4 linked regions of the Homo sapiens genome follow. The protein of the gene in region 1 interacts with the protein of each later gene in a pairwise test. Each region holds a gene or a part of one and is shown in the gene's direction. Other genes may lie near its edges. The genes, in order: FAM168A, BOLL, HR and SECISBP2.

Evidence for each region.
Region 2: the proteins of FAM168A (region 1) and BOLL interact in binary tests that used the Homo sapiens proteins (3 or more experiments, as listed by UniProt).
Region 3: the proteins of FAM168A (region 1) and HR interact in binary tests that used the Homo sapiens proteins (3 or more experiments, as listed by UniProt).
Region 4: the proteins of FAM168A (region 1) and SECISBP2 interact in binary tests that used the Homo sapiens proteins (3 or more experiments, as listed by UniProt).

The regions. Positions count from the first base shown.
Region 1 is NC_000011.10:73,588,109-73,595,133, reverse strand, and holds part of FAM168A (protein FAM168A), read left to right. Parts: intron 1-7,025.
Region 2 is NC_000002.12:197,754,314-197,761,338, reverse strand, and holds part of BOLL (protein boule-like), read left to right. Parts: intron 1-2,331; coding exon of another isoform or gene 2,332-2,397; intron 2,398-3,182; coding exon of another isoform or gene 3,183-3,191; exon of another isoform or gene 3,192-3,206; intron 3,207-3,938; coding exon 3,939-3,986; intron 3,987-4,782; coding exon 4,783-4,911; intron 4,912-5,377; coding exon of another isoform or gene 5,378-5,409; intron 5,410-7,025. UniProt on the Homo sapiens protein: Probable RNA-binding protein, which may be required during spermatogenesis. May act by binding to the 3'-UTR of mRNAs and regulating their translation.
Region 3 is NC_000008.11:22,128,010-22,135,372, reverse strand, and holds the start of HR (lysine-specific demethylase hairless), read left to right. Parts: upstream 1-4,362; 5' UTR 4,363-4,664; coding exon of another isoform or gene 4,665-4,769; 5' UTR 4,770-4,945; intron 4,946-6,162; 5' UTR 6,163-6,202; coding exon 6,203-6,814; intron 6,815-7,363. Other genes in the region: protein HRURF, read left to right, coding at 4,665-4,769. UniProt on the Homo sapiens protein: Histone demethylase that specifically demethylates both mono- and dimethylated 'Lys-9' of histone H3. May act as a transcription regulator controlling hair biology (via targeting of collagens), neural activity, and cell cycle.
Region 4 is NC_000009.12:89,321,479-89,328,503, forward strand, and holds part of SECISBP2 (selenocysteine insertion sequence-binding protein 2), read left to right. Parts: intron 1-3,948; coding exon 3,949-4,198; intron 4,199-4,418; coding exon 4,419-4,560; intron 4,561-7,025. UniProt on the Homo sapiens protein: mRNA-binding protein that binds to the SECIS (selenocysteine insertion sequence) element present in the 3'-UTR of mRNAs encoding selenoproteins and facilitates the incorporation of the rare amino acid selenocysteine.

The DNA.
Region 1 (7,025 bases):
ATGTTTATATTAAAGCCCTAGCTTTTGAAAGCCCAAAATGAAAAGTGCCTGGGAGAAATGTGTTGGTGGATTTTTTTTTTCCACAGCCGTGGTTACCTGTGTAGTAGTAATGTGTTTTTGTATCTTTACCTCATTTGATCCTCCCGATATCTTGGTGAGAAGAGAGCAGATGGAGGTATTGATAGACAGAAGCCTTTGTGGAACGAATAGCCCATGAGTTTAGGAGTTGAGTCCCAGATTCAAATCCCAGTTCTACTACTTGAAAGCTGAGTGATTTCAGTCAAGTCATTAAAAACCTTTCAGATGGCCAGGCGTGGTGGCTCACGCCAGTAGTCCCAGCACTTTGGGAGGCCGAGGTGGGTGGATCACTTGAGGTCAGGAGTTTGAGATCAGCCTGGCCAACATGGCAAAACCCCATCTCTACTACAAATACAAAAATTAGCTGGTAGCACGTGCCTGTAATCCCAGCTACTTGGGAGGCTGAGGCAGGAGAATTGCTAGAACTGGGGAGGTGGGCAGTGAGCCACGATTGCGCCATTGCACTCCAGCATAGGCAACAAGAGCGAAACTCTGTCTCAAAACAAACAAACAAAAAACAAACAAAAAACCTTTCATATTTAGTGGTAATGGCTGCAAAACATTGTGAACATAGTTAATACCACTGAATTGTACACTTAACTTTGGTTAAAAAGGTAAAAATACACACACAAAAAAACCTCAAAAACCAAAAAAACTGGCCAGGCATAGTGGCTCACGCCCATAATCCCAGACTTTGGGAGGCTGAGCTGGGAGTATTGCTTGAGCCTAGGAGTTCGAGACCAGTGAGGGCAACATAGGGAGACCCGTCTCCACAAAAAAAAAAAAAAATTTGCTGGGTGTGGTAGCGTATACCTGTAATCCCAGATACTCAGGAGGGAGGTGGGAGGATTGCTTGAGCCAGGGAGGTCAAGGCTGCAGTGAGCCATGATCGTGCTTCCCTGCACTGCAGTCTGGGTTACAGAATGAGACCCTGTCACACAATCAAACTTTCATACTTCACAAGGCTGTCAAGGGGAACAAACCAGTTCATGTCCTGAAAACACTGTACATATATGAAATATCTGTTCACTATTTATTTATTTAATGAATGTCTGCTAAGTGCCAGGGGAAATAAAAATGAACAGAAAGCAGTTGTCAAGGAGCTTTCAGTGTCATGGGAAAGATAGACAAATACGGTGAGAAAAGTGAGGCAAAATGAATGCTATGGTTAAATGTGGGTTTTGAAGTCTGTCTACCACTTACTATTAGCTGTGTGACGTTGGGCACAATGGGCTCATCTGTAAAGTGCGAATAATAGAATTAACATCATAGGATTGTTTTGAGGATTAAATAAGATAATCAATGGAAAGCATTTCACACAATATGTTTTATAGTACACATTAAAAAAATTAGTTGTTGCCTTTATTGTTAGAAAGATAGGCAGAGGCTAGAATGGTGAATAGCCTTGTGTGCCCTACCAATGAGTTCTTAGTATTGTGGTATTTATTAATGAGGTATGATTTTGTTTTATGATCTCATGCATATTTGCATGTTTACAGTCTAGGAACTTTAAACAGTTCTTTAAATGCCAAAGTCCTAAACAGATGTTAGCTGTTAGCTTCCTCATTAATAAAATAAGAAGAAAAATTATGCTCTGAGAGGTTAAATGACTTGTTTAAGGTTACACAGTCAGTGGAAAAGTCTGGGTTACAGCCCCCAAATTCTAATTTGTCATCCCCATTTATATCCTTTTTTTAAATTGTAAAATATGTCATATGTATAAAAGTATATTTAACATAAACCCACAACTTAAAGAATAACAAATTGAAGGCTTTTCTACTTGCTACCCAGCTTAACAAAAAGGAGATTTCTAGTACCTTTAAAGCCTCTTGTGAGGTCCTACTTGATTGAATCTCCCATCTTCTCTCTCCCTCAGAGATAAACAGTTTCCTAAATTTTATGTGAATCATTTCTTTGCTTTTCTTTATACTTTTACCAAATATGTGCATATCCCTAAACAGTATATTTTTTACCTTTGCAACTTTTTATAAATAGAATTATAGGATAAATATTCTTCTGACTTGCTTTATTCTTATTCTTATTTTTTAACTTTTAAAAAAGCTTTATTTCTTCCACCATTAAATAATGTGTGCTCATGATAAAAACTAGAAATTACAAAAAGTAAAAAGAAGCATAAGTATTGTTTTTAGTCCTATTACCCAGTAACACTTTTTTTTTTTTTTGGTAGAGACAGGGTCTCGCTATGTTGTCCTGGTCAAGTGATCCTCCTTCCTCGGCCTCCCAAAGTGCTTACAAATGCAGGCATGTGGCACCATGCCTGGCTGGCAAATGCTTTTTGTAGAAAATATTTTGTGCCACATATGGCCTCTGTTGTTCTTTCTCCTCCCTTCCACTCCCCTTCCTTTTTGTCTCCCCATCTCCCTCCCCGTTCTTCTCCTTCCTGAAGCCCCTCCTCTTGCTTCTCCCCATTCCTTCTTCTCCCTCCCCTTCTCTTTCTCCTCCTTTTATGTGGTTTTAAGAATGTAAAACTCACAGGCCATACAAAAATAGGCCATGGGCGGGCCATAGCTGGCCGACCCCTGGTACGTTAACAGAAATCAACTCAAAGTTGTAAAATATTGAAGAGGAAAGAGACTAAACCAAGTTCATATTTCTTTCTCTATTTTGTTAAATTTACTTCCTTGGACAGTTATGCATATCTTTAGTATTGAAAACAATGGTATAGAATTTTTTTGTCAAATTATGTTTATCTAAAAGTTTAACATTTTATTAAATGAGCCATTATTTTCTGTATGAAGACACTCTGAGAAAACCTCAGTTTATAAAGTTCCAATACACCTCCTCCTCCTGCCAGTTAGGCAGGTGTCTGGGTCCTTTCAGAATATGCCTATTTTATGATGATATAGGTTGTGCTTTTTCTTAGATATAGACATTTTGAAGGAACCCTGAGATGATATATTTTTCACAGTAAACTTCAATCCTTGGCTACTTGAGATTATGATCTTGATTTGCCTTCTGATCATGTCGCTCAAGCTTGACGATTTCTGCTAACTTGTATTTCTTTTCTAGCCTCTGTTTTATAATTTTTCTAAGTATTTTAGTTTTCTAATGTGTCTTCCTCTATCTTTTATTTTGAGTTGATAGCAAATGTCTCTATCAGTAGATAACAGCTATGCTATTTATACTTATGCAAATATAATGGCGCCATTTTATATATAGTTCTTAGGTTGGTCATGTGGCATTATTTTCATTTTAAGGATGAAGAAATTAAGACTCTAAGAGGGTAGCTGGGTGCAGTGGCTCACACCTGTAATCCCAGGATTTTGGGAGGCCAAGGTGGGAAGATCGCTTGAGCCCAGGAGTTCAAGACCAATCTGATCAACATAGTGAGATCCAGTCTCTACAAAAAACAAAAATATTATCTGGATGTGGTGGCGTGCACCTCTGTTCATAGCTATTTTGGAGGCTGAGGTGGGAGGATCACTTGAGCCCAGGAATTTGAGGCTACAGTGAGCTATGATCATACCTCTGCTCTCTAGCTTGGGCAAGACTATATCTCAATAAATAAATGAATAAAAAGATTCAAGAGGGTAATTTGTCTTAGGCCATAAGACAAGTAGGGAATTAGCAGGGAAAGACAAAAGGTACCTAACATTTGAGTGTCTATGGCAGGCAGTATGCTGGGTGCTTTCTTTTCCTTATAGATAGAATTTAATCCTCATATTTGTGTCGTATAAGGAATTGTGATCATTTTACAGAAGAAGAAACTGAAGCAACTGAGGCATATAGTGATTAACTAGTTTGCATTTGTTTACATAGCTAGTAAGAGAAGAAAAGCTCGTATTTAAAAACCTGATCTGCCTTGCTCCAGAGCCATTGTTCTTTTTGTTGTACTGCATATAAATCTTCCTGGTTTTAAGCTGTTAAATCAGTAGTCTTCTTTTTTTTTTTGAGACAGAGTCTCGCTTTGTCTCCCGGCCTGGAGTACAGTGGCACGATCTCTGCTCACTGCAAACTCTTCCTCCCAGGTTCAAGTGATTCTTCTACCTTAGCCTCTTGAGTAGCTAGGACCACAGGCCCGTGCCACCATGCCCGGCTAATTGTTTGTATTTTTGGTAGAGATGGGATTTCACCATGTTGGCCAGGCTGGTCTTGAACCCCTGACCTCAGATGATCTGCCTGCCTCGGCCTCCCAAAGTGCTGGGATTACAGGCGTGAGCCTGCACCCAGCCTAATCAGTAGTCTTCAACCTATTTAGACAGGTAGTATCTGGCTACTCTTTAGAATCACCCGAGGAGCTGTTTAAAAAAAAAAGATATGTGTCAGTTCTACTCTCGACCAGTGTTAACAAAACTTCTGTAGGTGAGCATAAGGCAGATGTGTGTATATTTATATGGAAAATATAAATTAAAAATAAATTATATTGAGGTATGTATAACATGTAGAAAAAAATGCACAAAATGTATAACCAGCATTCGGATCAAGAAAGGGAACATTATCTCCTCCTCCAAGGAAACCAACAACTTCTAATAATGTAGATTATTTTTGCCTGTTTATGACGTTTCATAGGTGTGACTGGCTTTTCATATATAATATATTTGTGAGACTCATTTATTCTTGTATGTAGGTGTAGTGTGTTCTTGCTTATTGCTATGTAGCAACAGTTTCTCAAACATTTTGGTGTCTTCACATTCATATTTATTGACAACTCCAAAGAACTTTTGCTTGCAGTGGCACAGTCATGGCTCACTGCAGCCTTGACCTACTAGGCTGAAGTGATCCTCCATCCTCAGCCTCCTAAGTAGCTGGGACTACAGGCATGTGCCACCATGCCTGGTTATTTTAAAATTTTTTTTGTAGAGACAGGATCTTGCTCAGTTGCCCAGGCTGGTCTTGAACTCCTAGGCTCAAGCAATTCTCCTGCCTCAGCCTCCCAAAGTACTGGGATTACAGGCATGAGCCACTGCCTTCAGCTGTGTTAGCATATTCTAATGAAAATAAGTATATTATTCTAAATGTAAAAAATTAGAATAATATTTTACATTTAAAACAATCTCTTTAGTATCTTATTGGATCTGCCTCAGTATTCAGTCTGTTGCAGTTTGTTGTTTTGCATGGAATATAAAGAAAATCCAGTCCCACAAAGGAGGAATTTTCTTTTTCTTTTTAGACGGAGTTTCACTCTTGTCGCCCAGGCTGGAGTGCAATGGCAGGATCTCGGCTCACTGCAACCTCCGCCTCCTGGGTTCAAGTGATTCTCCTGCCTCAGCCTCCCAAATAGCTGGGACTACAGGCGTGCGCCACCACGCCCAGCTAATTTTTGTATTTTTAGTAGAGACAGGGTTTCAGCATCTTGCCCAGGCTGGTCTTGAACTCCTGACCTCATGATCCACCCACCTTGGCCTCCCAAAGTGTTGGGATTACAGGCGTGAGCCACCGTGCCCAGCCGAAAGGAGGAATGTTTTTATATAATTGTGGATATTCCTCTTTGATACTACACCAGTCATGTCCAGCCCTTTGAATGTGAGGACTTTTTTGCTTATCTGTAGTGGATATCATGAAAATTATACACACTTTTTTTTTCTTTTTTTTTTTTTTTCAGCTTATCAGCTATCGTTAGTGTTGGTGTATTTTATGTGAAGCCCAAGTCAATTTTTCTTCCAGTGTAGCCCAGGGAAACCAAAAGGTTGGACGCCCATGTTACACCAAAACTTGACAATTGGTAGTTTGTTAAGGTTCATTGCCTTGTACAGTCTGAACCATATCACTGAGCTTTTCATGCTCTGTTACATTAAAATCCATTGGTCTGTTTTTTTCTTTATTATTTTTTAATTTGCTTATTTCTCCAAGAAAAACCATTGGTCTGTTCGTACTTTGTTAGATCTTTTACCCGTGCATAATTTTTGTAGCATTATGCGTTGGTCATTTGGAAAATATTGGTTCACTGAATATCTTAGTCTGCTCTGGCTGCCATACCAAAATGCCATAGACTGGGTGGTTTAAACAACAAAAATTTATTTTTTCGCAGTGTTGCAGGCTAGAAAGAAGTCCAAGATCAGTGTTCCAGCATGGTTAGTTTTTGGTTAGGGCTCTCTTACTGGCATCTAGATGGCCATCTTCTCGATGTTTCCTCACATGGTGGATTGGAGAGGGAGAAGAGAGAGAAAGAATAAGTGCGAGTGGACAGGCAAGCTCTCTGGTGTCTCTTTTTGAAGGCACTCATTCCATCATGGCAGCCCCACCCTCATGACCTAATCTAAACCTAATTATAAATCATCTAAACCTAATTATCTCCCAAAGGATGTGTTTCCAGATACTATCACATTGAGGAATAGGGCTTCAATTTATGAATTTTGAGGGGAGGCAGTTCAGTCTATATTATTGAGTTATTGTGGAGCATCTTTTTTGAGACCGGGTTTCACACTGGAGTGCAGTGGTGCATTCACGACTCACTTTGGCCTCAACTTCCTGGGCTCACGTGGTCATGTAATCCTGCCACCTCAGCCTCCCGTGTAGCTGAGACTTCAGGTGCAGGCCACCGTGTCTTGCTAATTTTTGTAGTTTTTCATAGAGACGGGATTTCACTGTGTTGCCCAGGCTGGTCTCCAACTCCTGGGCTCAAGTGATACCCCTGACCCAGCCTCCCAAAGTGCTGGAATTACAGATGTGGGCCACCGCACCTGGCCATGTGCAGATCTTCTGAACTGTATAATGTTTAAGAACCCACATTTGTTAATATCACCACTCATCTCATCAGACAAATCTTTTCTAATTTTCATTTGAAAGCTCAAATTTTATCATAGGCAACCAATACTGACAGTTGTTTTCGTTGAAGTGACAGTCTCACATTGTTCATTTTCAAAAAATTGTCTGCCAAACATCCAAGTCTGAATAATCATAGTTTTTCTGCCAGTCGTTTTTTCAAGTAAAAATGGTGTTTATTAAAGCAGCCAGTACAGTTTGCAACTCAATTGCACAAGTGCTTT
Region 2 (7,025 bases), on another chromosome or scaffold:
TGGTGATAAATTCTCTCAGTTTTTGCTTGTCTATGAAAGAGCTGGTTTTTTTAGAGACAGAGTATAGTGACATGATCATAGCTCACTGCAGTGTCAAACTCGTGAGCTCAAGTAATCCCTCCCACCTTAGCCTGCCACACAGCTGAGACTACAGGCATGTGCCCTGCCTGCTAATTTTTTTTAAGAGATAGGGTCTTGCTATGTTGCCCAGGCTGGTCTCAAATTCCTGGGCTCAGGCAATCTTCCTGCCTTAGTCTCCCAAAGCACTGGGATTACAAGTATGAGCCACCACACCTGGCCTTGTGAAAGATCGTATTTCTCCTTCATTTCTGAAGGATAGCTTTACTGGGTATAATATTCTTGGCTGGCAGGTTTTTTTCCTTCAATATTTTGAATATATCTAAATATATCATCCCATTCTCCCTGGTAAGATTTCTGCTAAGAAATCTGCTGTTAGTATAATGGGGATTCCTTTAATTGTGACTTGATACTTTTTTCTTGCTGCTTTTAAAATTCTTTCTTTCTCTTTGACTTTTAACAATTTGACTATAATGTGCCTCTGAGAGGATCTGTTTAGATTGAATCTGCTAGATTCAACCTATCTGCTAGGGTAGTCTCTGTTTAGTCTCTTAAGCTGTAATACTCTCTAGTTGTGTTTCCAAGTTTCTCAGTGACCTAGCAAAAGAGAGTCTATGACAATGGTGGTAGGGCTTTGCCAGGGGTGGGCTTGCTGAGCTGTTCCTCAGGTCAGGGCTGTGTACATGAACATGGTAAGTCTGGCTCACTGGGCTTGGGGCCACAGGGCTGTTACTCTGGCTGAGAGCACAGGCATGCAGTTTCTCAGCCAGCCTGGAGGAGTGCCCACCAGAGGCAGCCTGTGGGGCTGTTTCTCAGGTCTGGTATGCAGGCACATGGCTCCTTCGCTGGCCTGGGGGTGCATCTGCTGGGGACAGCCCATGGGACTGTTTCTCAGGCCTGGAATACAGCTGCATGGCTGTTCAGTCGGCTAGGGACATGTTTGTCAGGGGCTGTTTCTCCGGCTCAGGATGCAGGTGCACAACTGCTCACCTGGCCTAGGGGCATGTCTGCTGGGGGTGGCCCACGGAGCTATTTCTCAAGTCTGGGACATAGGCACAGGGTGGATCACCCGGCCTGGAAACGTTTCTGTGAGGGCTGTTTCATAGGCCCAGAATGCAGGCACAGGGCTATTGGTCGGCCTGGGATCATGCCCACTGGAAGCAGCCTATGGGGCTGCTTTTCAGGCCTGGGACACAGGCTCCAGGCTGCTCAGCTGTCCTGGGGACGTGTCTGCTGGAGGGGTGGGCACGAGGCCATTTCTTAGGCCTGAGGCATGGACACACAGCCACTCCACTCCCCTGGGGACATTTCTGCCAGTGGCAGTCCCCGGAGCTGTTTCTTGGGCTCTAATTGCATGCACAGGGTAGGTCAGGGGCTTGTCTGCAGGGCGTGAGGCACCTCTGGGCTGTTTCTCAGCCCTGTATGCAGGTGTGTAACCATTCCATCCCGGCAGCATGTCAGCTACTACGAGGCTTGAGGACCTGTCCTGCTCAGGAGAGTGCAGCAGTTTGACCAGCTAAAGAGTGGGTTCACCCTGGGCAGGTCAGCCAGATTGTTCCTCTAGCTGGAGGTGAGGGCAACAGACGTTGGTTTCCCTACTGTACAGAACCAGAATCACAGCCAATCTTGAGCCTCAGGTTCCATGCTGCTGAGGTTGTGTTCAGCCACTGGTGTGTACTTGGCAGAATGAAAATGGAACCCCAGTACTGGAGACGTGCAATAGCTACTGGCCCCCTAGAGATGACTATGGCTTCAAGATGCTGTCACGCTGTAGCAGCTTCGCTCACAGGGTGGGGTTGAGGGGGTGGGGAGTACACACTTTGTACTCCTAATTCGGGGCAATGCAGCCACGAATTCCCAGCAGCTCTTCAAACTGTGAGACTGTGGGATTCTCCTGTTGCAAGGAGTGTGGCTGTTTGCAGTAGCAATGCAGGCTGGTGGGGATCTTCTGCTTACCTTTTCCCTGCAATAAGAAACTGCAGGACTCCAGGCAGAACCAATCCTAGCAGAAGAGAAGGGTTTGCAGAGGCTGGGTGGCTCCATGCTGCGCTCCTGGATTTGCAATCACCACAGGTGTGTCTCCACTCCCCTGCGGCACTCCAGCACTCTCCTTTTGATGCTCCTGTCAAATTGTAGCTGTTTATTCTTTGCCTTAGTCTTTTCTTGTGGCGGGGTGGGGAGCCAGTGGAAAATGAATGCTAGGCATCTCTGGTCAGCCATCTTGCTGACATCATGCCTCTCTTTTTTTACGAGGGAATTAAACAATGTCATACAAGAAGATGGATGGACTCTTTGCTTCCTTTTACCAAATGTGATGAGGTCAGTTTTGCTCCCCTGGCTAACATTTAGATCTAAAAAGTCTTTAGCAATAATTCCCCAAGTAAGATACAGGTATTGGACTGCAAGCTGGTTTTTTAATGTTAACATATGTCAGTTTCTTGCTATATTATATTTAACATAATTTATATTAAAGCAAATAATATATTGTGGTTTATTATATATTATGATATCCTCTTTCAGTTAACCAGCACTCTTCATTAATTTTAGTGAGAAATTGGGGATAAGTGAACTATAATGCCAGATCATTCTGGTCTATAGCAGGGTCATCAAACTATGGCTTGCAGACCAAACTCCAGCCAGCAGCCTGTTTTTGTAAATAAAACATTATTGGAACACAGCCACATTTGTTTACTTATTGTCTATGGCTGTTTTTGTGCTACAGTAGATGAGTTGAGTCTTCTTTTTCCCCTTATCCCAGTGCTAGGCAACCAGTAATCTACTTACCTGTTTTTCTAGATTTGCCTATTCTGGATATATCCTATAAAAACAATCATACAATATGTGGTCTTTTGTGACAGGCTTCTTTCATTTAGCATAATGATTTCAAGATTTATCTATGTCATGATAAATGAGACATGACATATCTCAGTACTTCGTTCTCAAATAATATCCCATTGTATGGATACACTGTACCACATTCTGTTTATCCATTCATCAGATGATGGACACTTGAGTTGTTTCTACTTTTTGACTGTTATAAATGATACTGCGATGGACATTCACATACAAATTTTTATGTGAACACATATTTTTATTTCTCTTAGGTTTTATAACTAGAGTGGAATTGCTGGGTCATACGGTAACTTTGTTTAACCTTTTAAGGAAGTGTTTATTTTCCCAAAGGGCTGCGCCATTTTACATTCCCACCAGCAGATTATGAGGGTTCTAATTTCTCCACGTGCCCGTCAACATTTATGATCTACTTTTTTGATTAAAGCCATCCTAGTAGGTATGAAGTGATGTTGTATTATGGTTTTGATTTGTATTTCCCTGAAGGCTAGTGGTGTCGAGCATTATTTCTTGTGTTTATTGGCCATATGTATATCTTCTTTGGAGAAAAGTCTATTCATATCATTTACCAATTTTTAAGTTGGGTTACTTGTCTTTTGATTATTGAGTTGTAAGAGTTCTTTATACATTCTTGATATAAGTTCCATGTTTTCTCTCATCCTGTGGGTTGTATTTTCACTTGCACAAAAGTTTTTTAAAGTTTTGATGAAATCTAATTTAACTATTTTTTGTTGTTGCTTTGTTGTTTATGCTTTTGGAACCATAATTTTAAAAACATTTCCTAATTCAAGGTCACAGGCATTTACACCTATGTTTTTTTCTAAGAGATGTATAATTTTAGCTCTTACATTTAAGTCTCTGGTCCATTTTGAGTTAATTTTTGTATATGGCTTGAGTTAATTTTTGTATATGGTGTGAGGGTCCAACTTCATATTTTTGCCTGTAGATATCTAGTTTTAACCCTTGTTTATAATCAGAATGGGTTTTTCTTTTCTTTTATTTAATTTTAGGCCACCACACAGTATTTACCAGGACAGTGGCAGTGGAGTGTTCCTCAGGTAAATGTTAACTTTCAATATATAATTTTAAATCCTTCTTTCATTATATTCTTGTGATGACTGCATGAATACTAAAGTTTTTTAGATTTGAGACCTTCTTCTTCTGTTTATTAACTTATTCTTTTGGCAGTTCATTTTCAGTTTCTTCATTTGTAAAATGGATATAATGATACTATACCTTTGTAAGTTTCCTTACATGATTTTTGTGAATATCAAATGATAATGCATAAGTGAAAGCATTTTATAAATGTGTACTGTATAAACATGAAAACTTACCCTTTTTTACTATTAGTGTTATTTGAAAATTTAGCATTTTTCTAACTTCATTTGGATTTGGCTTCAGTTTTTATTCTGTTCCTAAATAAGTATTCTATTTCCCAACTTTTGGTAACAAATAGTACTTCACCAAAAAAGTTTCACATTTTCCCACTTTCATTAGAAGTCACAGAGCTGAGAGTAGACATTTATGTCAATTTAAATACCATAGATCACATTATCACAACCTTTACTGGTGACATTAATATAACCATAATTATTATCTGAATTTATATATGAGGTTCTCAGTCATTAAGAAGTTCTAGTGCTTACCAATGATAAGATTCTTTAACTACATCTACACAGTTGGAATTTATAACAGATCAGTTTCTAATCCGTTGCTGAGATACTTCTGTGCTATTCCTAAAAAAAAATTTAGTAAAATAAAAAACAAGTACTTCTCTCATCTGTTGGCTAAGTCATTTGGTTTAACAGAAATAACTAATCATATTTGAATTAGAAATATGGTTTTGTATTTTAGCCTTCTGCCTCTTCTGCTCCATTCTTATACCTGCAACCTTCTGAGGTTATTTATCAACCAGTGGAAATTGCACAGGATGGTGGATGTGTTCCTCCTCCACTGTCTCTGATGGAAACTTCAGTTCCAGAGGTATGTATTAGTCTTAAAGTAATTGATCTATAACTACCTCATGTTAACATTTATTTCTTTTTCTCTTTTTTAAATTTGTTCACGACCCTCATTGAAACTGCTTCATCTTTGTTTTGTTGATTTATTCAAATCTCTTCCCCTTTCTTATATCTAAGAATGCATCATCTTAGACTTTTTCGCTAACTAGTTCTGAACCATTTCCCAAATCAACCATTCACTCCACTAAGCTAATCTTTGATTTGATCTTTTTGAAATAGTAAAATTCCAAATACTCTGCATTCTCATTTTGCCTGTCAATCTGTATTGTTACTAACATTCTATTAGTCAAAAGCATATAATTAAGATGAAGAAGAAAAAAAATCTTTAAAAAAATTCTTCCTACAAAAATGTAAATTAAATTTATAATTACAAATTTTAATATCCTCTTCAGCATCTTTAAATTATATTTCTGATCCGTTACTTATAGCTTCACCATCTGTATGCCAGGAACTGTGCATGGTATGTTTTATTTTATATTTTTTATTTTATATTATTTTAAGTTCCAGTACATATGTGTAGGATGTGCAGGTTTATTACATAGGTAAACCTGTGCCATGTTGGTTTGCTGCATCTATCAACCCATCACCTAGGTGTTAAGCCTGGCATGCATTAGCTATCTTTCCTGATGCTCTCCCTTCCCAGCCCCGACACGTCCCAATGTGTGTTGTGCCCCTCCCTGTGTCCATGTGTTTCTCATTGTTCAGCTCCCACTTACAAGTGAGAACGTGCAGTGTTTGGTTTTCTGTCCCTGTGTTAGTTTGCTGAGGATAATGGCTTCCAGCTCCATCCATGTCCCAGCAAAGGACATGATCTCTTTCCTTTTTATGGCTGCATAGCATTCCATGATGTATATGTACCACATTTTCTTTATCGAGTCTATCACAGATGAGCATTTGTGTTGATTCCATGTCTTTGCTATTGTGAATAGTGCTGCAATGAACATACACATGCATATATCTTTATAATAGAATGATTTATATTCTTTGGGTATATACCCAGTAATGGGATTGCTGGGTCAAATGGTATTTCTGCCTCTAGGTCTTTGAGGAATCACCACACTGTCTTCCACAATGGTTGAACTAATTTACATTTCCACCAACAGTGTAAAAAAGCGTTCCTGTTTCTCCACAGCCTCACCAGCATCTGTTGTTCCTTGACTTTTTAATAATCGCCATTCTGACTGGTGTGAGATGGTATCTCATTGTGTTGATTAGCATTTCTCCAATGATCAGTGATGCTGAGCTTTTTTTATGTTTGTTGGCTGGATAAATGTCTTCTTTTGAGAAGTGTCTGTTCGTGTCCTTTGCCGACTTTTTAACGAGGTTCTTTGTTTTTTTCTTGTGAATTTGTTTAAATTCCTTGTACATTATGGATATTGGACTTTTGTCAGATGGATAGATTGCAAAAATTTTCTCCCATTCTATAGGTTGTCTGTTGACTCTGATGATAGTTTCTTTTGCTGAGCAGAAGCTCTTTAGTTAATTAAATCCCATTTGTCAATTTTTGCTTAGTTGCAATTGCTTTTGATGTTTTCATCATGAAGTCTTTGCCCGTGCCTGTGTCCTGAATGAATAGTATTGCCTATATTGTCTTCTATGGTTTGTGTGTGTGTGTGTGTGTGTGTGTGTGTGTGTGTGTTTTGGGGTTTTTTTGTTTGTTTTTTGTTTTGTTTTTTGAGACGGAGTCTTGCTCCATCGCCCAGGCTAGAGTGCAATGGTGTGGTCTCGGCTCACTGCAACCTCCACCTCCCAGGTTCGAGTGATTCTCCTGCCTCAGCCTCCTGAGTAGCTGGGACTACAGGCACGTGCCACCATGCCCAGCTGGCTAATATTTTCATATTTTTAGTAGAGACGGGGTTTCACCGTGTTGGCCAGGATGGTCTCGAGCTCCTGACCTCATGATCCACCTGCCTCGGCCTCCCAAAGTGCTGGGATTACAGGTATGAGCCACTGCACCCAGCCCTTCTGTGGTTTCTATAGTTTCGGGTTTTACATTTAAGTCTTTAATCCATCTTGAGTTAATTTTTGTATAAGGTGTAAGGAACGGGTCCAGTTTCAATTTTCTATATATGGCTA
Region 3 (7,363 bases), on another chromosome or scaffold:
AGCCCTCCGCAAGCACTCCCTCACCTCGGAGTGGTTTGCTGTCTGGACCACACCACCTCTGTTCTTGCACAGACTTCTGTTGTTGCCTTGAGCATGTGACCTTTTCTCCCCCACTGTGTTGTGACTTCATAAAGGACAGACGTATTTTACACACTGTTGTAGCTCAGCCTGGAACAAATGGTCTAACCGAAGTGAAATACTTTTGTAACTTCGCGACTGGGTGGTGAAGTCCTGATCTCATTCTCTGATCTCCTCCATGAAGTTCCCCTGACTTCCCCAGGGTGGGACTAGAAGCATCTTGTAATCATTCATGAACAAGCCCAACACCCCCAGCGCCCAGCACAGGGCCAATACCTAAGAAGCCTGGAGGAGTTTTGCTGGTGAAAGAACAAATGCGTGAAGTGACCATATGTTCTGGGTGGGGGAGGCCGGGCGGGTGGGATGGCCTCGTGATTTCTGCCTTTGTGCCCTGCATCGCCTGGGGCCCACCGCCAAGCCTTGAACATGCCAAGGCCCCTAGAACACGGGTTTGGTGAACGGCTGACTGCAGTTGTATGAATTCCAACACATGCTGGGGACAGAGGGGAAGGAGCCAGGAGAAGTCCAAATTCTGGGGCATTTCTGGGTGAGCACACATGGGACCCGGAGGCTCAGGGCACTGGTTGTCAACTGGGCTTCCCTGAGAGCCAGCCCTGCCTCTCTGAGAACCCCTGAGACCTCACCTTTGCCCAGCAGTTGCACACTTTGCCTCCAGTTGCACACTGGAGGGGGTTACTGTCTCACCCTCCACCCCCTCTGGCCTGGCCTCTCTTGGAAGAGGAGGCTGCATGCCAGCCTGCCTAAGCACCCCCAACCCTCTTCTCGCCACCAGACAGTGGGCCACGAGCAGGATCAGGGCTGGTGGGGACACAAAGCTGCCACAGCCAGTCCCCTTAGAGCTGCACACCTCTGCTGGGTCCTGGCCCCTGCCCCACTTGGTTTGTGCCCTGGTCTCACTCCTCACCTCCCCTGCAGCTTGTCTGCTTTTGAGGGGTTCCTGCATATCCACCCTGGTTTCTGGGTGCGGATCGCCCTCTGTTCTTGCCCCTCTCTTCTCTCTGCTCTCCACCCACAGCCATCCCTTGGCCCTTCCAGGTGGCTCCTCTCCCTCCCTGACTCTTCAGCCCCCATCACTGTCCCTCTAGGCCTGGGGCCCTCCGTGTCCTGGTCCCCTTCCCCGTCTCCAGCCTCCATGTGCGCCGCACGCACTGGCTGTATTTTTAGCTGTCACTGATTAGCCTCTAGTTCTGACACAGCCCTGGCCCAGGCTGGGTTGGGGCATCCTGGTTGGCACTGCCCTCCACCTTGAGGGGGTTAAGGAGGTGGCACTCAGCCTCTGGCTCCATCCTCTACCCAGCATCAGGGACCAGAGGTCTCAAGAGCTGGGTAGGGGGCAGACGCCTGGGCAGGAGGAGGATTCTCTGCTGCTGGAGAAGTCCTGGGGGCCACAGTTGGTGTTTCCGGGTAGGCACAAAGGTCTCAAGCCCAGGGCAGAGTGGAGCTGGCTTCCTCTCCCCGGTGGGTAGCTTGTGGGGGTAACCTGGAGGGGAGGGGAGGTGGGGGGAGGAGGAAGCGCACTGGGAGGTGCAGACTGAGAAGAGGAATTAGGTTAGGGATGTAGGTGGGTGGGCGGGAGGGGATGGCGGCATCTGCTTTGGAGCTTCCTCCGGGTTCCAAACGCATCCCCACACTTCCCTTCCCCTCCTCCCCACACCCTGCCCCCACCCCCGCGGGTCCCGGGAGAATTCGCCTGGTATTCCCCCTTCCCCATCCCCCACCAGGCGTTGCCACAGGGTGGGGGGTGGGGTGGGGGGAGGCCAGCCTCAGCTGTCTGAAGGATGGAGGGGCTGGGGAAGCAGGGCTAGGTGCCCAGACGGCCGCGTGTGTGGGAGGGGATGTCCTCAGATGCCCTCCACCCGGCAGTCCCCGCTCTGACGTGGGTGCCCCCCCTCTCCCCGCCCGGATTAGTGGCAGCTTGGCCTGACTCTCCGGGGCTCCTTCCCCCGCCCCCGCCTGCTGCCCTCCCCTGGGCCGGGGGCTGCTCCGCCCGGGGGGCACTGTGCTTGCCCAGGTAAGGGGCTCTGGGGATGGCATGAGGGCCGCCGGCTCGTGAGTGCTGCTGTGCCCGTCAGCACGAGCGTGTGTCAGCGAGTGAGTGTGTGTCAGTGAGCCAGGGGTCGGTGCGGGGCTGGGGCTTGGCCCCTGAATGGCTGGGGGTGCTGGTCAGCTTGCCTTTGTCCACAAGTCTGGCATTGTGTCCACGCGCCGTGTGGCTTTTCTTCTGTGTTTGTGTCTTTTGTGTGTCTCCTCAGCTCTGCTCCGTCTTCAGGCACAGAACAGCCGGCTACAAGGACTCTGTGGGCCTGTGGCATGGGCTCCAAAGCGGGATGGGGAGCTGGGCGAGGGTGGGGAAGGGGTCCTTCCTCCCATCCCGCGAGTCCCCACGAGCCCCTGGGCTTTTCAGGAGCCTGTCCCCAAGAGCCCTGCTACTCTAGTCCAGGGACCGTGGCCTGACAAAGCAGACATGGCAACTGGGGTTGGGGGGGATATCTGCCCCACTCCCCTGGGATAGTCCCCATCCCCTTTGGGGATGTCAGCGATAGGTCCTCAGGGTTCTGGACAGCGCAGGCTCCCATCTTGGCCTCTCCGAGGCCCCAAGCCGCAGGAATCTCCCCCTGGCACTCCCACAAGCTTCGGCTGCTGAGGAGGGAGCACAGAGAACACAGATGGGGGACCACAGACACACCCCAGCCCTTACCTTCACCCCTGGAGCCAGCCTGGGAGTGGGAGGCCGGGCCTCAGGGCCTGGGGCCTCCAGTCCATGTTAGACCCTCTACAAGCATCTCCCCTGGCACACTCAGGTCCCAGCCACCCTCAGGGGAGCTGGGGAGGAAGGGAGTGTTACTAACTCAGTCATGTAAACAACCCCTACCAGCCTGCCTTGCCACAGAACTGGCCTCTGGGGGCAGGCCAGGGGCAGGGTGAATGGATGCCAACATGGCCCAAGTCCGGCCCAGTGCCCGCTCCTTTAGACCCCCGCTCCCCAGGACCCCCACTCTTCTCAACCGGTAGAAGGCTCTAGGCCTTGCTCATCCCTTAGGAGGAAGGCTCCTGGCTATTCAGGGCTCCCCTCTGCAGGGATGGTGGTGTGACTTGGGACCAAGCTAGAGGCATCCAGAACCCATCGCTTGCAAGGGATGGGAAAGAGGGAGTGCAGCTTCTGTCCCAGGCAGGCCAAGGTTGGCTTCCGCAGGGAGGCAGGGGAGCCGAGGGTGGGAGGTGGGTGCCTGAGGGGAAGGGAAGCGCCCGTTGGGCGTGTGGGTTTCTGTGTGAGTCTGAATCTGTCTGTGTGTGTTTGAATCTGTCTGTTTGTGTCTGCACTGGAACCACCCCCGCAGCGGAGCCGGGATGCTTCCTCGGGTGGAGGGTGCCCTGCTTTTCCATTTCCTCTCCTCCTCTCTGCACTCTCCCGGGAGCCACTCCCATGGGCGCCTCTCCAGCCCCTGGCCTGGAAGCACCAGGAACCCTGGGGATGGGGCAGACCCTCACAGCCCGGGGTCTGGAGCCGGTGTCGGAGCTCATCTGGGCCCATGACCTCTCCAGACATTTGGCAAAATCAAGGCCCTTAGACCAGGGACAGACCCAAGCCCAGGCCCTCCCAGAGGTCCTAGGACGCAACCCTTTGTGCCCTTGGGCTCTGGAAGAGGTTTGGGAAGGGTTTGGGGTGGAAGATGGCAAAGAGCAGCTTGGCCAGGTGAGGATGAGGCAGGGCAGACACAGGCCAGTGGGGCGTGCCATGTGCCACAGATGGAGAGGACCAGGAGCCAGTGGCCCGGCAGGCACAGCCCGGTTGGCGTGGGCCAGAGCGCCCATCACTGACCCGTGAGAACTCGACTGCCCCTGCCAGCTCTGGCACTGCCCCCTCCCAGCCGCCCCGCCCTAGCACCCTGGGGGGCACCCCGCCCAACCGTGGCCTGGTCCGGCCCCTCCCGCCCTTTGCTCCAGTTCCCGGGCTTGGCACCTATAGTGGGGGTGCCGCCCGCCTGCCAGGCTCCGGGGCCGGGCCCACGGGAGGGTGGGGCGGCTGGGAAGCTGGCACGCTGCCCCGGGGGAGCCTCTCTCGGCAGGCGCCCGGGTGCCGCGGGGGGGAGGGGGAACAAAGGGCTCATTCTCCCCGTGCGCAGCCGGTGGCATCGCCGGGGCGTTGGCGGAAGCCCCCGGGGCCCGGGAGGGGGCAGGCCCAGGCGCGGCCGCCGAATCACGGGCTCCTGTTTCCCGCAGGGTGCTGGAGGAGGAAACCGGCGGAGCAGCTTCCCCACTCTCAGTTGCGCTTCTGGCGATGGCGATCAGAGGTCCTGCTGCGCTCTCCGCCGCGCTCTACCTCCATTAGCCGCGCTGCGCGGTGCTGCGCCCTCGCCGGTGCCTCTCTCCTGGGTCCCAGGATCGGCCCCCACCATCCAGGCACGACCCCCTTCCCCGGCCCCTCGGCCTTTCCCCCAACTCGGCCATCTCCGACCCGGGGCGCGTGTTCCCCCCGGCCCGGCGCCTTCTCTCCCTCCGGGGGCACCCGCTCCCTAGCCCCGGCCCGGCCCTCCCCGCGGCGCAGCACGGAGTCTCGGCGTCCCATGGCGCAACCTACGGCCTCGGCCCAGAAGCTGGTGCGGCCGATCCGCGCCGTGTGCCGCATCCTGCAGATCCCGGAGTCCGACCCCTCCAACCTGCGGCCCTAGAGCGCCCCCGCCGCCCCGGGGGAAGGAGAGCGCGAGCGCGCTGAGCAGACAGAGCGGGAGAACGCGTCCTCGCCCGCCGGCCGGGAGGCCCCGGAGCTGGCCCATGGGGAGCAGGCGCCCGGTGCCGGCCACGACGACCGCCACCGCCCGCGCCGCGACCGGCCGGTGAAGCCCAGGTAAGCGCCAGGAGCGCGCCGTCTGGGGACACTCGTGGCGGGGGATTTCTGAGCCGAGCCTGCGGTGCCCGTACGGAGCGTGTTCCCCGTGCCCCTGTGGGCTGGGCCACACATTCTGACACCTGAAAGTTAGGAAGCCCGACGCGGCCAGACCACGGCGGAGCGGTGGCTCCAGAAAACCTGGGCGCCCTCTGCCACTGCGCCGTCACCTCCCGCCTGGGGCTTCGTCGCTCTGGCCGAAGGGACCGCGCCAAGGCAGCGCTGCCGCTCTAGTGCCACCTGTCATCCTGGTCCCTTGCACGCACGTTCAATTTTCCCTCCCTTGCCTCTCTCTGGGGCCCAGCCCGCTTTCCCCGCCTCCTTCCCTCTCCCCTCCCCGCCAGGCTGAAGTTTCCAGCGGCGGTGGCGGCTGCCCTGGCACTGCTGGCTGGGCTAGGGCAGCTTGACCCATCCAGCTGAGGCTTCTTAATCCCCCTCCCCTGTGCCGGCGCGCTCTTCCCGCTGGGGGCCAGGGCGGGGTTCCTAGCCCCCTGCAGTTGTCCTGGGACTCTGCTTGAGAAGCCGAGAAACTGCAGGGCTCTGGGAAGAGGCTGACTCAGGGCCGCCCAGGTGTAGAGAGAGACACAGCCAGCGGCCCTGGCTGGCAGCGTTCCCCAGCGACTCCAGCCTGCCAGGCCTGCACTTCCCACGGCTACAAGCCTGGCTGGGGCTGTAGGCTAGGGTTGGGCTAGCAGCACCCCCAAAACCACGGATTGCAGGATGGGAAGAATCCTCTGAGCCGACCCAAGCCTCAAGGGCACACTGAGGCCCAGAGGAGTGACATGATTTGCCCAAGGCCATACAGCATAGGACAGAGTCAGGCTCAGGATCCAGCCTTTTTCTTCATTCAGTGCCTTCCACTTTCTGTCCTCCCTCATGGGTCGTGAGCAGATTCCTAGCTTGGTGAGGCCAGGACATGCCCTACTAGCAATGGCAGCCTCCGCTGAGGGGCACTGGCCCAGGTGGAATTTGGGGAAGGGGTAACATCCCCACACTGGAGGAGCAAGATGTGTCTGGCTGCATGTGGAGAGGCAGCATGGTGCCCAGTTGTGGGCTGGCACTTGCCTTACTGGTTTGAGCTGCCTCAGTGTTGCCAGGGCGGTGCCCACTCTGTGCCAGGCTGTAAGGTGCTTGGGACATGTGCCCCAGAAGCTCATGCTTTGATGGTTATGCTCCAGGGACCCCCCTCTGGGAGAGCCCCATGAGGGCAGGAGAGTGATGGAGAGTACGCCCAGCTTCCTGAAGGGCACCCCAACCTGGGAGAAGACGGCCCCAGAGAACGGCATCGTGAGACAGGAGCCCGGCAGCCCGCCTCGAGATGGACTGCACCATGGGCCGCTGTGCCTGGGAGAGCCTGCTCCCTTTTGGAGGGGCGTCCTGAGCACCCCAGACTCCTGGCTTCCCCCTGGCTTCCCCCAGGGCCCCAAGGACATGCTCCCACTTGTGGAGGGCGAGGGCCCCCAGAATGGGGAGAGGAAGGTCAACTGGCTGGGCAGCAAAGAGGGACTGCGCTGGAAGGAGGCCATGCTTACCCATCCGCTGGCATTCTGCGGGCCAGCGTGCCCACCTCGCTGTGGCCCCCTGATGCCTGAGCATAGTGGTGGCCATCTCAAGAGTGACCCTGTGGCCTTCCGGCCCTGGCACTGCCCTTTCCTTCTGGAGACCAAGATCCTGGAGCGAGCTCCCTTCTGGGTGCCCACCTGCTTGCCACCCTACCTAGTGTCTGGCCTGCCCCCAGAGCATCCATGTGACTGGCCCCTGACCCCGCACCCCTGGGTATACTCCGGGGGCCAGCCCAAAGTGCCCTCTGCCTTCAGCTTAGGCAGCAAGGTGAGTGCAGGGGCAGAGAGGGTACCTGTGGCTCTGGCCTAGCAAAGTTGCTCGGTGGTCCCCAAGATGCCCTTCCACTGTGATGAAAAGAGAAGGCAGCACCGAGGTAGAGGGGTCTATCAGCTTGGAGCTGTCCCAGGCCCCACAGTCAACCCCAAGCAAGCCCTACCCTGAGCAGCTCCATCTCTCTAGGCCTCCCCTGCCCTCGGGTCATTGCAGCCACTGACTCACCCATTGTCTGCCTAGGATAAGGTCCTGGGAACTGTGGCCTTGGAATGTGTGGCTTGTCCTGGGAGGAGATGGGTGGGCAGACAAGGGCCCTCTATCTGAGACTGGGATGTGCAGGGGACCCCATGGCCCATGTCTAGGGTACCTCCTCCATAGATGACTCCCACTCCCAGGGATGAGATGTTAAAACACTTAAAACTCAGTATGGCACAGGACACCAAATGGCCCAAACAGACCCCAGATGCCCTTTGGCTGTGCCAGGCATTCACTCTTTAGTTCTTAGACTTCCTTGTGGGGACGTCTGAGAAATCCTGGGGGAGG
Region 4 (7,025 bases), on another chromosome or scaffold:
ACATGGTGAAACCCCATCTCTACTACAGAAATACAAAAATTAGCCGGGTGTGGTGGCAGGTGCCTGTAATCCCAGTTACTCGGGAGGCTGAGGTAGAGAATTGCTTGAACCCAGGAGATGGAGGTTGCAGTGAGCCAAGACTGCGCCACTGCACTTCAGCCTGGGCAACAGAACAAGACTCTCTCTCAAAAAAAAAAAAATAGTTTTCTTAACTCTTCTTTTTTAGCTTTGGTTTATGACCAAGGAAAAGTATTCACGCCTGGCAAGAAAACAAGGATAAGGAAGGCATTAAGTTGAAGAGGAAGAGTTAGAAAGGAAAAGATCCTTTAAAGTGGGGATGAAATAATGAGACTTCACATGGTTGAGAATTGATTATCTGAGCAGTTCTAATATAGATTAAAAATTGCATTGCCATAGTCAGATTACATGTAAATGGAGATCTCTTGCTGCTGTGACAAAAGGAATAGAAGTTTCTGAAACAACTATTTCCTCCTTCTTACTTGTTCAACTACATAGCATCCTAAGTCAACTTTGTATGTCCCCTTCCCTCATCTTTCCTTAAAGAAGGTATAGTAACCTTTTACAGAATTTGTCCTCCTCCAGTACCTTTCACAGTGCACTCAAAGATGCTCATTTATTCATTTGGAATTAATTATTGAAAGTCTTCCATAGTTTTGAAGTGATGGAGATGAAAATGAACATACCAGACTCTTCCATATTTATGTTATAGGACAAGACAAAGAAATTAGAAGTAGTCTGATAGATAACATTTGCCATGTTTGGAAAATACTGATTATTTACTGATGTAATGAACAAATTTGCCTATGCAAACAAAATAAGTTTCTTCCAAGTAATGTCCATTGTCATGTTACATCCTTTGTGAAAAATCCTGTGCAACCTGTGTATGAGGATGTGTGCCTTTTGTTTGGGTATTATTGTATACTTCCACTTCTTTCATAGTTACTACAATCCATGAGGTGGCAGGCAGATGTAATGTTATTTTGCACATGGGAAACTGAAGCTAGGAATGTTTGTTCATGCTAATTCAAATAGGTAGCACCAGAACCAGAATTAACGTGCTATTCTTCAAAATTGCTGCTGCTATTGACAAGAGGTAGTTGAGCATTTTCACCATCTGCCAATATACTGTGAAAATTTTAGTACCAATTGATGCTTTTGAGTTAAAGCAGATCAGCTATGAGAAGAACTAGTGGTATACAACATTGTACAGCTGAGCACGTGGCTCGGTGGGTGGAGGAGAAACTGCATCCCCTTTGGGTCGTTGCCTGACTGAAGGGACCATGTGCATGATATGTTTGGGAGATAGTAGAGGAATAAAGTGATAATTTTGGGGGGAAGCTGTCAGTAGATTGGAAGCCTGCATAGTACAGCTGAAAAGTTTTAGGTTTGCTGGGTAGGCAATAGGGAACTTTTGGTAGTGTCTTAAATGGGGTCATTGTAATCACTCCTAAATTTTGGAAAGATTTTTAAAGAAGAGGGTCTTGAAGGCTTTGACCAGGTTCTAGGCACTGGAAATAGTAAAGAAACTACATGAGAGAACTGTTGAAATAAAAAAGAGCCCCATGATTGTCCGTACAGGTTTTGGTGGGAAAGATGTTACAAAAATATTCGGTTGAATACATGGAAATAATTGTAGGATCATACATGAGAACAGAAGTTGTAAATGGGGCTGTTTTGGGGAATGGATGTTAAATTTGGGATTTATACGTGCTGAATTGGGAAAAAGTGAAATAGTAAGTGGAAATGACCTGAAAGTTGGAGATGGAGGCCTGGACTAGGGAAGGTGCTGGATTGTTTATATTTATGTCAAGTCCTAAGCAGAAAGATAAGAGGTTCTGACCCAGAATGTGTCAGATGGGTGAGATAAGGAGGGTGTAGAGGAGACTGCACTAGGGAAAGAGACAGAGATAGAGCCTTGGAGGGCAGGTGAGAGCCAGGCGAGCAAAGTCCAGGCCAGGGAGCTTTTCAAGTCATGTGATGGTCAAGCCAGACCCAACGGGTGCCTGGAGGGAGAGGCAAGAAGGAGGTCCTGGGAGACCTGGAAGCCGTTGGTGGGAAAGGGGCAAAGGGAAGTGGAGCCAGGAGACCAGCAGGTATTGCACAATTACTCAGACAGTTTGATTTTAGTATGGATGGGGTAGCTTAGGACAGTGAATGAGAAACAGGTGTGTTACTGTGGGTTTAGGGTCATCTGGGCCACTCCTGGCATCTGGAATTTCCCAGACATGCCATTTGAAGCCACGCCAGATGCTGTGAGTTACTGCTTTGATGTTTTGTATTTTGTGTTGTTTTCTGCATGTAATTGTGTTTGCACTGGATGGAAATGGAAAATACCAACTTTCCAGAGGAGGAAGGACCAGTGAGGGGACAGAAACCCAAATGACTTACCCAGAATAGAAAACTGGATTGTGATTGAGCTAGGACCCCAACCAAGGTCTCCTGACTCCTGGATGAAAATTTCCTGGATGACAGCAGCCGTCAAAACCAATGGAACCTGTCCCTGCTTTCCTTTTTAGCTACATTTCATTTGTCTGTTCATTTATCTATTTATTGGACTTGGGACAGTCTTTTTCACATTTTTTTTTCTGTCAACTCATCTTTTATGAAGAACAGATTATCCACCTTCAGTGACACTTGCCCCCCACTAGCTTTTCTCAACTACAAACAAAATACAGCACAGAATTCACAGGAACATGTAGGCAGTGGGATGAAGCTTTGAGCCTCTTTTCTACAAAGAGCTAGTCCTCAGTGCTGTATGTTTGGAGCAGTGCTAGGCCAGTTGTTTTGTTGGACAGACAAAGGTCAGTAAAAAGGGGTTTATTTGATTTTTAATTAGGAATATTTCATGTTAAAGTTACTTACCTGTAAGTAAAAGATCTTAGAAAATCTAAGTTAACATATCATGAAATAGTAAACAGTGAGATGAGAGAATATATGATTAAGTACTGGATAGAAGTGAAAGCAGTAAACGTTATTATATTATAGGTAGAGCCTGTAGTCTCCCTTTCTTATTCAGTGTAGTCTGTTACTTGCAGCGCATTAGAAATATGATTTCTAGTAAGCGGTGCTTATGCTCATATCTCCTGACAGCGTAGCAGTTTGAAGGTCTTAAAGGGTGTGTCATGACTAGGTTTGGATTTTTTGCCTTTCAGTGTACTAGTACATTTTGGAATAGCTCCGGAAATTAACAGAAACATTTGCTGGAAGGAGGAGGTTACTATTTGTATTTTAAATCAGTTGCTTAGCATTTTGTCATTGTATCAGCTTTCATGGGAAAAAGGTTGAAACCTGTAGCCTTGTATCAAATTGGCTAAAAAAGAAAAATTAGTGTTAAATTATATTTTGGTTTAGTCTAGCAGCTTGGGATAAATTGAGGCAATAGCAACCTTCAAAGCTGGTGTCCATCTGTTAGTAAAGTGTGTAGTTAACATCCACGGTGCCGTGCGGTGTCTGCTTTGCGCTCTGACCCTGTTAGTCAGCAAAGCGCAGGATGTCATGGTGGGCTTGGAGCAGGGAAGGGCTGGAGAAAACCATTTGCAGGAGCCTTGGTGGAGGCATTGCAGGCTGTTGGGTCTCCCCGCAGCAGAGAGAATGGTCTTTAGGGGCATTTTGGCCAGGGTTGCTGGGAGAGGCTTTCCCAAATACTTGGTAGCAATTGGGTGAAAAGCTGCTGGAGCATCTTCTGGCTCTGTTGATGTTTCTTACGGACTTCCAGCTCATTAGTGAAAAAATAGAGTCAACATCTTTCTTTGCAGGGTGAGAAAGAAACACCCAGAGATTTTATTTGGCTTTTAATTAGGGATTATTCCAGTGCTAGAGTGAATGGTCTCAGAAATATTAAATGTTCAGTTTGAATTAGTTTATTACAGAAAAGCTTCTTGGTTTGCAGTATGAAATCTGCAACTAAAGTTTACACTTTTTACTTAGGCAGAAAATATATACTGAAGACATGGCCTTTGGAGCTTCAACTTTTCCACCTCAGTATTTATCTTCTGAGATAACTCTTCATCCATATGCCTATTCTCCTTATACCCTTGACTCCACACAGAATGTTTACTCAGTGCCTGGCTCCCAGTATCTTTATAACCAACCCAGTTGTTACCGAGGTTTTCAAACAGTGAAGCATCGAAATGAGAACACATGCCCTCTCCCACAAGAAATGAAAGCTCTGTTTAAGGTGAGTAGTGATGTTGTTTTGTTGTGTCCTTTAGTTGGTTGCTTTAATGTTTAAAATGTAAAGAAATGGTAAATTTGTACATCATATTTAAGTATCATGTATTTTTTTGTATTTAACCTTTTAAAAAATGATTGAATTGTGAATACTTAATATTTTGCTGCTTTAAACCTTTTTTATAGTGGTGGTTTTATTTCATGTTGCTTTTTAATCTTTCCTGCAGAAGAAAACCTATGATGAGAAAAAAACGTATGATCAGCAAAAGTTTGACAGTGAAAGGGCTGATGGAACTATATCATCTGAGATAAAATCAGCTAGAGGTTCACATCATTTGTCCATTTACGCTGAGAATAGTTTGAAATCAGGTAAAAATAACCAACAATGTAGTATAATGCGAGCCTACTCCTTGTGCCCCAGAAACATTCCTGCTATGTATACAGCTGTTTCTATGGGCTTGTTCATTGTGACTACTCCAAGAAATGAGACCTGGGTCTGACACAGCTTAGGGCGTCAGACTTCCTGAGCAATTCTAGAGGTATTTCTTCCCAGGGATGGGATTATTATTTGGTACCTGTTGCATTGTGGGATCTTAAGTGCCTATAATTTGTATTATTTGGTATATACATTTTTCTCTTTTCATTGACTTCACTCATAAACCATCTGGTACAAGGGACGTTTATTAACTGTAGTAACTGTGGTCTTATAATTAAATGAGTGGCTTCATGTAGCTGCAGCCTACCTTATCCATTGCATTTCAGGAGAAAGATGGGGAAGAGGTTATGCGTTTTATGCTACCTGCTTCCCTCTAGTTTATTCCAGCAAACTGAAAGATGGAAAGTTTACTAGCACAGAAAATTCATTAGAGTCCCTTTAAATTTGCAATACAATAAAATGTCTAAAAAGAATAATTAAAATGCCCAGCTGCACAATCAGGTTAAGGTAACTATTTCATCAGCCTTAGAATTATAGTCATGCCTCACTTACTGATGGGGACACATTCTGAGAAATGTGCCCTTAGGTGATTTCGTCATTGTGGGAACATTTAGAGTGTACTTACACAGACCTAGATGGTATAGCCAACCACCTAGCTAGGCTATATGATATAGCCTGTTGTTCCTAGGTTATAAACCTTTAGACCATATTATTGTACTGAATATTGTAGGCAGTTGTAACATAGTGGTAAGTATTTGTGTATCAAAATATAGAAAAGGTACAGCGGTGGCTCACGCCTGTAATCCCAGCACTTTGGGAGTCCGAGACGGGCGGATCACGAGGTCAGGAGATCAAGATCATCCTGGCTAACACGGTGAAACCCCGTCTCAACTGAAAATACAAAATATTAGCCTGGCGTGGTGGCGGGCACCTGTAGTTCCAGCTACTCGGGAGGCTGAGGCAGGAGAATGGCATGAACCCGGGAGGCGGAGCTTGCAGTGAGCCGAGATCAAGCGTCCCTGCACTCCAGCCTGGGAGACAGAGCGAGACTCCGTCTCCAAAAAAAAAAAAAAGATATAAAATGTTTTACCCGTATAGGGCACTTACCATGAATGGAGCTGGCAGAACTGGAAGTTGCTCTGGGTGATTCGATGACTGAGTGGTGGGTGAATGTGAAGGCCTAGGGTGTTACTGTACACTGTTGGAGACGTTCTAAACATTGTACACTTAGGCTACATGAAATTTATAAAAGTATTTTTTTCAATAATTAACCTTAGCTTACTGTAACTTTTTTACTTTATACATTTTTAATTTTTCTAACTTTCTGACTCTTGTAATAACACTTACCTTTTGTAATAAAACACAAACATGCAGAAAAACCAAAAATACTTGGCTTGGACAAAAATATTTTCTTTCTTTACATCCTTACTCTATAAGCTTTTTTCTATTAATTTTTTTTTAACTTTCTACACTTTTTAATTAAAAACGAAGACACAACCACACACATTAGCCTAGGCCTGTACAGGGTCAGAATCATCTGTATCACTGTCTTCCACCTCCACATATTGTCCCACTGGAAGGTCTTCAGGGACAGTAACATGCGTGGAGCTGTCATCTCCTGTGATAACAATGCCTTATTCTGGAATCCCTCCTGAGGGACCTGCCTGAAGCTGCTTTATACTTAAGTTTTTCTTTTGTCGTTTTGTGTTTTTTTTTTTTTTTTGAGACAGAGTCTCACTGTGTTACACAGGCTGGAGTGCAGTGGCACTATTTTGGCTCACTGCAACCTCTGCCTCCCAAGTTCAAGCAATTCTTGTGCCTCAGCCTCCCAAGTAGCTAGGGGGCATGCGCCCCCACACCCAGCTAATTTTTGTATTTTCAATAGAGTTGGGGTTTTACCATGTTGGCCAGGCTGGTCTGGAACTCGTGGCTGCATCTGCCTGCCTCAGCCTCCCGAAGTGCTGGGATTAAGGCGTGAGCCACCTTGCCCTGGCCAAATTTTTCTTTTGTAAGTAGTGGGAGTATATACTCCAAAGATAAAAAGTATAATACATAAACAAGTGACATAGTTGTTTATTGTCATTACCGAGTATTATGTACAGTACATCATCGCATGTACTATACTTTTATATGCCTGTTAGCTCAGTAGGTTTGTTTACACTGGCATCACCACAAACGTGAGTAATCGCACCATGACATTACCAGTAGACAATAGGAATTTTTCAGCTTCATTACAATCTTATGGGGCTGTTGTATACGTAATCCATTGCTGATCAGACCATCATATGTGGCGCGTGACTATACATACTCCTAAATGTACAGTGCATTTTGGTTTTTCTGCATGATGGTCCAACCAGAGTGATTGATACTTATGGTCATTTAAACTTTATACTTTTAC